Regions from separate parts of the Homo sapiens genome. Here region 1 is linked to region 2. A link means that fine-mapping ties the variant in region 2 to the expression of a gene that starts in the linked region. Tissue or cell type: whole blood. Region 2 holds a variant in brackets; the other region holds the start of a gene. All regions are shown on one strand. Distances are between the middles of the regions.

Region 1 (5,385 bases), 24 kb after region 2:
TCAAGTGGGAGGAACTGTGAAATTTACATGGAGATCATCAGATTATGTGTTCTTTTATTACCAGTGACCACTGCAGGATTCATAGATATTCTGTTTGGTCCTTTATGCCAAATCCTATGCCAAACTATAAGGTAGAATGAGACACCCGCCTTTAACTTCTTTAGCATGTCACTTACACTCTGGGACTCAGCGTTTTCATCTGCAAAATAGGCAGCTGGAGATGTGGTCATTGCTCTGCTAGTCTATGGTCTACCAGATGCTGGAGGGAGGCAATACAGTTAGGAGGATCAACCACACAGGCTCTGGAGCTTGACTGCCCATGTCTGAATCCTGTCTCCATTCCCCACAAACCCTATGACCTTGGGCAACTTACTCAGTTCCCTCATTTATAAAGTGGGAATAATAAAAAGATCACAAGAACACAACTCAAAGAGTAATTGTGAGGATTACGTAAGATCATACATGTAAAGTGTGTAGCATATGGGCTGGCACATGGTAAGTGCTCACTAAATGTTAGCTACTAAAAATGAAAAGTTCTGGGAAAATTTTTGAGGGGTCATCGCTATTAATGTGTTTTAGGGGTGACAAACTGTTCTAGAATATTAGATAATATGGGCATTTTAAAAGCATGATAATTGGCTGGGTGCGGTGGCTCATGCCTGTAATCCTGGCATTTTGGGAGACTGAGGTGGGCGGATCACCTGAGCTCAGGAGTTTGAGACCAGCCTGGCCAACATGGTGAAACCCTGTCTCTACTTAAAATACAAAAATTAGCTGGGTATGGTGGTGCGTGCCTGTAATCCCAGCTACTTGGGAGGCTGAAAATCACTTGAACCCAGGAGGCAGAGGTTGTAGTGAGCTGAGATGGTGCCACTGCATTCCAGCCTGGGTGATAGAGCAAGACCCTATCTCAATAAAATAAAATAAAATAAAGCATGAGAATGGTGTTGTGCCTAGTTGGGATAACGCTTTTCTTCTTGGGAGATGCATGGTGAATTGAAGTACTTACAGATAAAATCTCATTGAAGTACTTACAGATAAAACCTCACGATGTCTGTCACCTTATTATTATTATTATTATTATTATTTTTGAGACGGAGTCTCGCTCTGTCACCCAGGCTGGAGTGCAGTGGCGCAATCTCGGCTCACTGCAAGCTCTGCCTCCTGGGTTCATGCCATTCTCCTGCCTCAGCCTCCCCAGTAGCTGGGGAGTAGCTCCCCAGGTGCCCACCACCACGCCCGGCTAATTTTTCTGTATTTTTTAGTGGAGACGGGGTTTCACCGTATTAGCCAGGATGGTCTCAATCTCCTGACCTCATGATCCGCCCACCTCGGCCTCCCAAAGTACTGGGATTACAGGCGTGAGCCACCGCGCCCGGCCACGATATCTGTCACCTTCTGATAATCTAGGCAAATATAGCTCTGTTTTCATATCTATCAATAAAGCAAATGTGGCAAAAAGCAATTGTTGGAGCTAGGTAGATGGCATAGTTTATTGTACTATTCTTTCAACATTTTGGTATGTTTAAAAATGTCAAAATAAAAGGTTGGAGAAAAAACAAAAGGTCCTAGAAACAGTCTAGTGAAATCCAACACTCACATTTTACAGAAAGAGAACCATAAGCTCAGAAAACAAGACAGTTGCTCGAGGTTATACAGCTGGAAAAGCCTGGGCCAGGTCTCTTGGCCGCCAGGTTCTCCCTGTGTGTGGGCTTCAGACTCTCAGGCAGCAGTGAGCTGCAGAGGAGCACACCCCACCACCCCTCAAAGAGACCAAGGGGTATTATGGGTATGTAAAAAGGCACTTGTGTTGGTGTTTCCTTTTTTTTATGTCTATTTTATTTATTTATTTATTTATTTATTTTTTGAGACAGAGTTTCGCTCTTGTCGCCCAGGCTGGAGTGCAATGGTGTGATCTCAGTTCACTGTAACCTTTGCCTCCCGGGTTCAAGCAATTCTCCTGCTTCAGCCTCCTGAGTACCTGGGACTACAGGCGGGTGCCACCATGCCTGGCTAATTTTTTTTTGTATTTTTGGTGGAGATGGGGTTTCAGCATGTTGGCCAGGCTGGTCTTGAACTTCTGCCCTCAGGTGATCCACCCGTCTCGGCCTCCCAAAGTGCTGGGATTACAGGTATGAGCCACTGCTTCCGGCCTTATTTTTATTTTTTTAAGAGACAGGCTCTTGCTCTATTGCCCAGGCTGGAGTACAGTGGCACAATCATGGCTAGCTGCAGCCTTGAACTCTTGGATTCAAGTGATTCTCCTGCCTTAGCCTTCTGAGTAGCTGGGACCACAGGCACACATCACAACGCCCGGCTAATGTTTTCATTTTTTGTGCAGACAGGGTCTTGCCCAGGCTGGTCTTGAACTCCTGGGCTCAAGCAATCCTCCCACCTCAGCCTCCCAAAGTGTTGGGATTACAGGTGTGAGCCACTGCACCTGGTCTCCTTTTTATTAAACAAATAGATCATTTAGTTGGAATTTATGATGTCAAAAGTGCGAAGGTGGCACCAGAGCCAGACCTGCCATCCTTGGAGAGTGAGCATACCGGTTTGGCACCATCTGCTTGTGGTTTTTGAGTGGTGGTGGTAGTGGTGGTGCGTGTATGTAAACTCGGGTTGCAGAGGAGAGAGGGAAGAGTAAAGGGTGGGGACCAGGTCCAGGAAGAGCAGCAAGGAGAGACTGGCTTCAATTCTGGAGCTGCCTGAAAGAAGGGACCCCAGGCTATGGCTGAGAACGAAATGTGGGCACGTATTTAAAGAAAGGAAATGATTCTCTGCGGTCGGCAGGATCTTTGTCTAGCTAGTGGGGTTCCAGGAAGTGCAAAGGAGAGGGGAAAAGAGGGGCCGTCCGTGCAAGCCTGACTGTGTGTATATGGGGGGGGGGCACACAGAGAGGAAAAGGGAGAGAAAGAAAAGAAATTATTCTAAAGAGGAAGCTGGGGGCGGGGCGAGGGAGGGGTAGAGCCGGGGCACTGGGGGTGGCTGGAAAGGTAGAGAGGCCTCACCTGCGGGCCTGCGAGCGGCTCGGGAGCGGTCAGCCTTGCAGGCTGAAGCGTCTTGCCCCGGAAAAATTCCTGCCCCACTGTCCTTCAGGCTGGATGTCCCGGGGGCCACGGAAGCGAGCGCAGAGCTCCGGGGCTCTCACGAGGGGGAGGGCAGGAAGGGGAGGCGGGGCCTCGCGCGGGGCGGTAGCCGAGCCTGTGGCCCGGGCGGGGCTCCTCTCCGGCGGCGCCGGAGTCTGGGGGCCGCGGCTTCCCCCTCCCGGCCAGCGGCGGCTCCTGGCCCCTCCTCCCCCGGCCGCCCCCATCCCCGCCGCCGCCGCCGCCAAAGCTAAACCCGGCCGTTGCCTGCAGGAGCCGCGGCAGCGGGCGATCGGGCCGTGAGGAGCCTCGGGCGCGGCCTCGCCTCCCGGGCCCGGCGCCTGCCTCAGCACAGCGGACAGCGCCGCGCCCCTTGCCTGGACCCAGCCGCCCGCCCGCCCCCGGCCCACCTGAGCCCGGGCCCGCGGCGCCCGCATCAGCACTGCGGACAGCGCCCCGGGCCCCAGCTCGCCGCCACCGCCGCCGCCCACCTGCTCCCGGGGTCAGCACCGCGGAGACCCCCCTCGCCCGGCCCCGCGACAGCCTCCGAGCGCCCCCGGATCATGGCCACCGAGGTAGGGGCGAGCGCCCCACCCGCAGGCAGTGCCCGATTGCCGCGGGACCAAATGCCCTAGGGGTGGGCTGGGCAGGAGTGGGAGGCGGGAGTTGGGGGTGGGATGGGGTGATTCCCCAGGTCAGGTCTGGAGGGAGGAGGTAGGGGCTTAGTGAGGGCTCATCTCCCCCTTGCGTGTCAATCTTCCCCTCGCCCCACCTGAGCCCCCAAGCTGTCCGCGACACTTGTTGGCATTAGCGCCAGGGTTGCTTCAGGGCCCCAGGCTGGGGTTTCCCCTTCCCTGGACTTCACAAGTCCTGAAACCGCTTTCCTAGAGGGTTGGAGACGCGTGTGTGTGCGTGTGTGAGGGGAGGGAAGGCGGCTGTCCGCTGTTGCTATGCAGTCAGCTTCTGAACCCAAAAGCTTGGCTAAGGGATGACAGACTTACCTCTACATCCGCATTTCCTTTGCGGGAGGGAGGGGACAAAGACATCCTCAGGCTGAGAACCCAAATGGTTGGTCTCCACTTTTGCATATCACCCTTCTTGCTTTTTTACCCCATTCGAGTTTTTTTTTTTTTTTTGTCCCAGGGTGTCCAGATTTCCCCTCCATCTGATGGGAGTTTCTGCCTTCTTCAAGGTGCACTGATAGGTGTGTCACCTTCAAGCACTTGAAGGCTGAACCACGGGGCCTGTTAGCTAAGGGCAGAATCTTGGTATAATGCTTGAGGTCGAGGATTCCCCCCTCTACCCCTAGGGATTGCCCTTTCCCCCCTCATTTCAGGAGGGAGATTGGGCTCTTTATGTTCCCACTTTATACATGATAAAGGTGATGTGTGGAAAACGAAAGGACTAATTTGCTACTCCACACAGCATGTCAGCAGCAGAGCGGAAAGTTTTTGCCTTTGAATTTTTGGAGCGAAACTCAGGACATCAGGGTCTCCCCAGTTCTGATGTTGACTTCCTTTGTGGTGTCTCCCCATTTCCAATCCAGCTGGCATACACTGGGGGAGAGCAGAGGCCTGTGAATGATTCAATGCAGTGCTTCTGGGCATCCTGGTGAGCAGTGTGACATTAATACCAAGTGTGGCTGTTGTTATTCCACTCAAGTTTCCACCACAGAACAAGGTGCTGTTGCTTGGCATTGCTTGGCATTCTGACAAGGCACAAGGTTAGCTAGGCGGAGAGTTGCCCCTCAGGACTTGGTGTGAGGGCAAGCCCTGGGCAGACCCTGGGAGCTTGGTTTCTAGAGTAGAGGAATGCAGAGTACTCACAAAGCACCAAAGACATGGAGGACAGCAGGAAGAACAAAGGGAGAAACCAAGGAGTTGGTTACCTTCCAGATAGGGCTGCCAGACTGCAGCAGAGGCTGCTGTGTTGGACAGAAAAGGGGAACTTCAGCTACATGGGCATGGCTGGGCCAGCAGCGTGGGCAGAGAAGGCAGCTGCCTCTGCGATGTGATCTGACAGATTCCAACAGGCCCATCTGTCCCAGGATGTCTGCCATGGCCCACAGATTCCAACCAGCAGGCTTCTATCTCTATGTCAAGACAGCGTTTCCAGGAGGCTGCTATGAGACATGTGTGACTCTCCCCTGGGAGGGGCTCTGCTCATAACGCCTCTGAAAATATTGCGCTTTCCTGTGTACAAAGCACTATCGCATAAGTGATCTCTTTCAAGCCTCAGAGCAGCCCTATGAAGTGGGTAAGGATGGTGTTATTATGCCCAATTAACAGATGAGACAACTAAG
Region 2 (5,385 bases):
GAAGCAGGCTATGAAGGGGTGGGGTGGGGTTCCAGAGCTCAGGATCATTCTAGCATTTCTAGGGGGTAGTCCCTGGTGGTGCTGGGCAGCTCCGTGCCTGACTCATCTGAAAACACTTTATAAATAACCTGGCAGAGGGACGTGGGCTGTCCACCCCCGTACCCGCCACACTCTGTGAGCAGGTGGCAGCACCGAGGTCCTGAGGGCTTTTGAGATGTCCAGGGCAGGGTTCTGGTCAGAAGCCAGGCCCAGGGGGATGCCGGGAGGGAGTGTTGTCCACCTCTGGTGAATGGCGCTGCGGGGGTTCTGGGCACCATGGAGTCCTCCTCTCAGCTGTGATGTTGTCAGCGCCACAACCTTCGATGGGAGCATTGGGGATTTCTGGCTGGGCAAACTGAGCCACTATGGACTAAAGTTGCTGGGAAACCTGGGATGAGTCACTTCCCTTCTCTGGGAACCCTCATTGGTAAAATGAAAAGGTTGAACTAGGTGAGTACTAAGGTATATTTTTTATTCTCCTTGGTGGGTACAGGTTGGTGTTCCTAAATTAGATACCACAAATATTTACTGAACCCTCATGTCCCTGCACTGTGCTAGGCAGCTCTATGCAATTATTAAAAAAAAATTTTTTTTATTTAGAGATAGTCTTGCTCTGTTGCCAAGGCTGCAGTGCAGTGGTGCGATCTTGGCTCACTGCAGCCTCAACCTCCCAGGCTCAAGCAATCCTTTCATCCCAGCCCCCTGAGTAGCTGGGACTACAGGCGCACACCATTACAGCCGTCTAATTTTAAAAGTTTTTGTAGAGATGTGGTCTCCCTGTGTTGCCTAGGCTGGTCTCAAACTCCTGGCTTCAAGAAATTCTCCCTCCTCAGCCTCCCAAAGTGCTGGGATTATAAATAGGTGAGAGCCACTGCACCTGGCCTTTTTTCTTTTCTTTTTTTCTTGAGACAGAGTCTTGCTCTGTTGCCCAGGCTGGAGTGCAGTGGCACGATCTCAGCTCACTGCCACCTCTGCCTCCCGGGTTCAAGTGATTCTCCTGCCTCAGCCTCTCAAGTAGCTGGCATTACAGTCGCACGCCACCACGTCTGGCTAATTTTTGTATTTTTTTTTTGTTTTAGTAAAAATAGGGCTTTGCCACGTTGGCCATGCAGGTCTCGAATTCCTGACCTCAAGTGATGTACCCACCTCGGCCTCCCAAAGTGCTGGGATTACAGGCATGAGCCACCATGCCCGGCCTCAAATATTTTTTAATAAGGCTCATTTGCTGCTAGTTAGTGCATTGGGTAGGGGCCCATGCCGGTCAGGCCACATCAGGGTCTCAGGCCAGGGCAACAGCTGTATACGTGTCAGTCGTCTGAAGGATTAGCAAGGGAGTGTGGCCACGGCTCAGGCAAAGGCAGAAAACACCTGACACCGAGAGGGAAGGGCACGGTGGGCTCTGATGCTTGTCTGAATTTCCCTCAGCAGCCCCATTCACCAGATGGGCCCTGGGACTCGCTCAAGGTCCCATAGCTGGAAGTGATGGGGGCCCTGGGAGGACCCAGGTGTTCTGATTTCAAGCCCGGTTTCTTGGGAGGAATGCTCATTGTTTCTATATTCTCTATTTGGAAATATCTCAAGTAGACACGATGGCACCAGGAGCAAGAGGCCACTGGGCAGAGAAGGCAGGGTCCTGCGTGTTCCTGATCAGGCCTGCTCTGGTCTCAGGCTGGGGAGGACACTGTGTCCTGGTGCTCGGCGGTGTCTGGCACAGATGGGCGTGTGTGGGTGGGGCAGGAGGAGGAGCAGTTACCCGCAAATGGAGCCTGCGTGCTGGACACGGAGAGTCTCTCCCTTGTCAGGCCTAAGGGGACACCAGGAGCCCCCCGGGCAGGAACAGTATCTGGGCGGCCAGCGGTTGGACACAGGGCTGCAATAGGGTCTGATTTTGTTCCTGAGGAAGAAGAGACATTTGACTGGTCAGCCACAGAGGGCAGACGAGGATTCTGGACGCAGATTTCAGCGTGGCACAGCCTGTGTACTCACTGCTGGGGCACTGCCACCTGTGAGGTGATGAGCTCCCAGTCCCCCGATGAGTGGTCTTCTGTGAGGGTGTGGAGGAGGGGACTCCATGAGGGAAGGGCTGGATTAGGCTGGTGGTCCCCAACATGGCAGCACATCAGAATCCCTGGAGGAGTTTGCTTATGGTACAGATCCCCGAGTCGCCCCCCGAGCCCCCACTAGATAGGACTCCCCAGGGATGAGCTGCACAACCTCCACGTCAGGCCTTCAGAGGCTGGGGCTCCATTTATCCCAGCCTCCCTTACCCACCCCTGAGATACGCTGTTGAGGTTTCAAGCACAGTGCAGCTGCACATGTAGTAGCAGTCCATAGACAGAGAACAAACGGCAACCTCAGGAGACTGCGGATTCAGAGCTTAGTCAGTGGATTTGGTGGCTGCACACAGCTTGGACAATGGCTTCCCTGCAGGCCACTCAAGAGACTGATGTCAGGTGTCATGCCTTTGGGGATTAAGATGCTGAAAGGGTTTTGATATCTTTCAAGGGAAACAGAGCTACAGGGCCTTCAACAAGCTGCTTTGCTCCTGCGGTCAGTCCAGTTCAACAGTAGTCTCTGGCTGGGTGCGGTGGCTCACGCCTGTAATCCCAACACTTTGGGAGGCCGAGGCTGGAGGATTGCTTGAGGCCAGGAGTTCAAGACCAGCCTGGCCAACATGGCAAAACCCCATCTCTACTAAAAATACAAAAATTAGCAGGTGTGGTGGTGCACACTCGTAATCCCAGCTACATGGGTGGCTGAGGAACGAGAATTGCTTGAACCCAAGAGGCGGAGGTTGCAGTGAGCCGAGATTGTGCCACTGCATTCCAGCCTGCGTGACAGAGCCAGAGTCCATCTGGAGAAAAAAGAAACAAAAAACAAAAAACAAACGTGGCCCCTGATGAGGGGGAGCCTGGTGCAGTAGGAAGAGTGCGGCCAGGGGCAAGTCCAAAGCCTCCTCCTGTCTCGCTGTGTGACTTTGAGCTAGTGTCTTACCCCCTCTGGGCCTCTCATTTGTAAAGTGAGGGCGTTGCACCTTCAAATCCTC[C/T]CTGACCTGGCATGTTACAATACCTTGAGTGACCAGGATCTGGGGTGTTTGCCTAGTGACTGGCATCAAATGTTGTTCTGACCTGTTCCTTGCTGTGGCATCTCCCCTCCTTAGTTACTTGTTTCCCACTGTCTGCTGGAAGTGTGGCTGTCCTGGCTAATCAGGCAGGAAGGCCTGGTAGCAATGGAGGCAGGGCAGTTGGTGGGCGGGAAGGAGTGAGCACGTGGACCTTCCAGGCAGTGGGGCCGGCCAGGGGCAGGGTTCCAGGTCCCAGGGCAGGGGAAACTGCCAGGAAACTATAGGCCCTGCCTCAGAGAGAGGACTGGGGCCAGAAGTGGGGGATTCTGGCTTAGTACACTAGCCCTTGAGGCCCATGAGGCCTCCCAAGAGCACGGTGGACAAGTGTAATGTATAGGATACTCCTGGGGTTAGGGACGGGACAGGCAAGGAGACATTAATGCCACATCTTGAGGGCACATTCAGGGCCAGGCATTGCATTTGTACAATTTCCAGATTTCACAAAACTCATGGGAGTGGATATCACTTGCCTCATTTATAGACAAAGATAGGAAGGCCCATGTTAAATGATTTGCTCATGGCCACACAGCCAGTGAGAGGCAGAACGGGATGTGAACTCAGGTCTGGCTGATTCTAAAATGCACAGGGCTCCCTCTGCATCGTGCACCTCCTCCTCTGTTACAAGCATCGTTCTTCTGAAGCTCAATGGCACCCATCAGCTCAAGGCTCTGCGTGTATCTGTCCAAGGTCAGGGGTACGTGCACAGAAATGGACATGCATGAAGGAAGTGTGACTCAGAATTAAATTGCAACAGAGAAATTTAAAATCACCTAGGCCAACAGAGTGTCAGCAGGATTTGAGCCTGAGACCTGTCAGGTTGCAAAACTGATTGCTGGGGAAACTGAGGTTGATGAGCTCCAGCCCCCGGCCATGCGCTCACATGGTATGTGGGAGGCCAGCTGCGCAGTAGTTGCAATGCCTCATATTTCTGGGGAGGTGGCCATGAGCTGCTGTGCTGGAGGCAATCAGGGAGGGGTCCCCCAAAGGGGCAAAGTTTGAGTTGTCTCTCAAAAGATGGGTTGAAATTCACATGCCAGTTAGGTATGGGAGAAAAGAGTTCTAGGCAGCTGGAACAGCATATGAAAAAAATCAGAGGCCTGGAAGGATGCGTGGAGTTGGGGAAACTGGGAGTAGCTCCCTGGGGTGGGAGGCTGGGTGCAGGTGAGAAGGGAGGTGTGGGAGACGAGGCTGGGCAGAGGAGCCAGAGCGTGGGCTGGATTATGGAGGGCGTGTATCTGTGTGACCTTCTGACTTTGGCCAAGCCTCAGTTTCCTCAGCTATAAAATGGGAGAAATAAGGCCGTCTGTCTGTACAGGTTGTTGTGAGATGTAAACTAGACAGTAACAGTGAAGTGGGTGGCAGTGAGCCTGGTGCAGGGGCAGTAACTGGCTGTTGCTGCTATAGTTGGTGATGGTGATGGTGATGGTGATGGTGATGGTGATAATAATAACTGGGTTTCCCAGTTTTCTTTCATCTGTTCTCAACACAGTAGCAAGAGTAGTTCTGTTAAGACATATGGCAGATAATATCCTTCCTTTGCTTACAAGCCTCCAGGGACTCCCCTTTCATGCAAGGGAAAAGCCACAATCCTTGTGACAGTCTTCAGGCCCTGCCTGACTTGATTTGCCCCTTAGCATACTCCCTGTGTTCCCATGCTGCTCCCTTCCTGTCACTCTGCTCTAGCTGCTGGCCTCTTCACCATGCCTGGAACTTGCCAGAGTACTCCTGCCTCAGGGCCTTTGCACTTGCTGCTCCTGCACCTGGAATGCTCCTCCCCAGGTGTCCGTATGGCTTGCCCTATCTAGCCTCCTTCAGGTCTTCAATCACATGTCACTTTTTTTTTTTTCAGACAAGGTCCTGTTCTGTCACCCAGGCTGGAGTGCAATGGTGCAATAATGGCTCACTGTAGCCTCAACCTCCTGGGTTCAAGCAATCCTCCTGGGTTGGCTTCTTGAGTAGCTGGGACCACAGGTATGCGCCACCATGCCCAGCTAGTCTTTTAAAATTTTTTGTAGACATAGAGTCTCACCATGTTGCCTAGGCTGGTTTCAAACTCCTGGGCTCAAGCAATCCTCCTGCCTTGTCCCCCAGAAATGTTGGGATTACAGGCGTGAGCTACCATGCCCAGCCACGTCACCTCTTTAGTGAGGTCTTTGGTTGTGCTGCCTAAAATTGCAAACTGCCCCCTGGCCCTTGCCAGCACCCTGCCCCCCCTCCCCATC

What was found. PIP is the estimated chance that this variant, and not a neighbour inherited with it, causes the effect.
Region 1: GOLGA7B starts here. The variant in region 2 is fine-mapped to the expression of GOLGA7B in whole blood (TOPMed, PIP 0.99).

Annotation. Positions count from the first base shown.
Region 1 is chr10:97,846,658-97,852,042 of GRCh38, forward strand. It overlaps GOLGA7B (golgin A7 family member B), which reads left to right and starts at 3,186. Exons shown (of 5, transcript NM_001010917.3): 1 at 3,186-3,658. The coding sequence starts at 3,647. It overlaps GOLGA7B-DT (GOLGA7B divergent transcript), which reads right to left and starts at 3,141. Exons shown (of 3, transcript NR_108035.1): 1 at 3,009-3,141.
Region 2 is chr10:97,822,200-97,827,584 of GRCh38, forward strand. It overlaps LOC107984260 (a long non-coding RNA gene), which reads left to right. Exons shown (of 3, transcript XR_001747563.2): 1 at 1-489. Among named protein-coding and RNA genes, the nearest start is that of GOLGA7B-DT, 25 kb to the right of the region's middle. The variant C/T (reference allele first, on the strand shown) is at 3,086.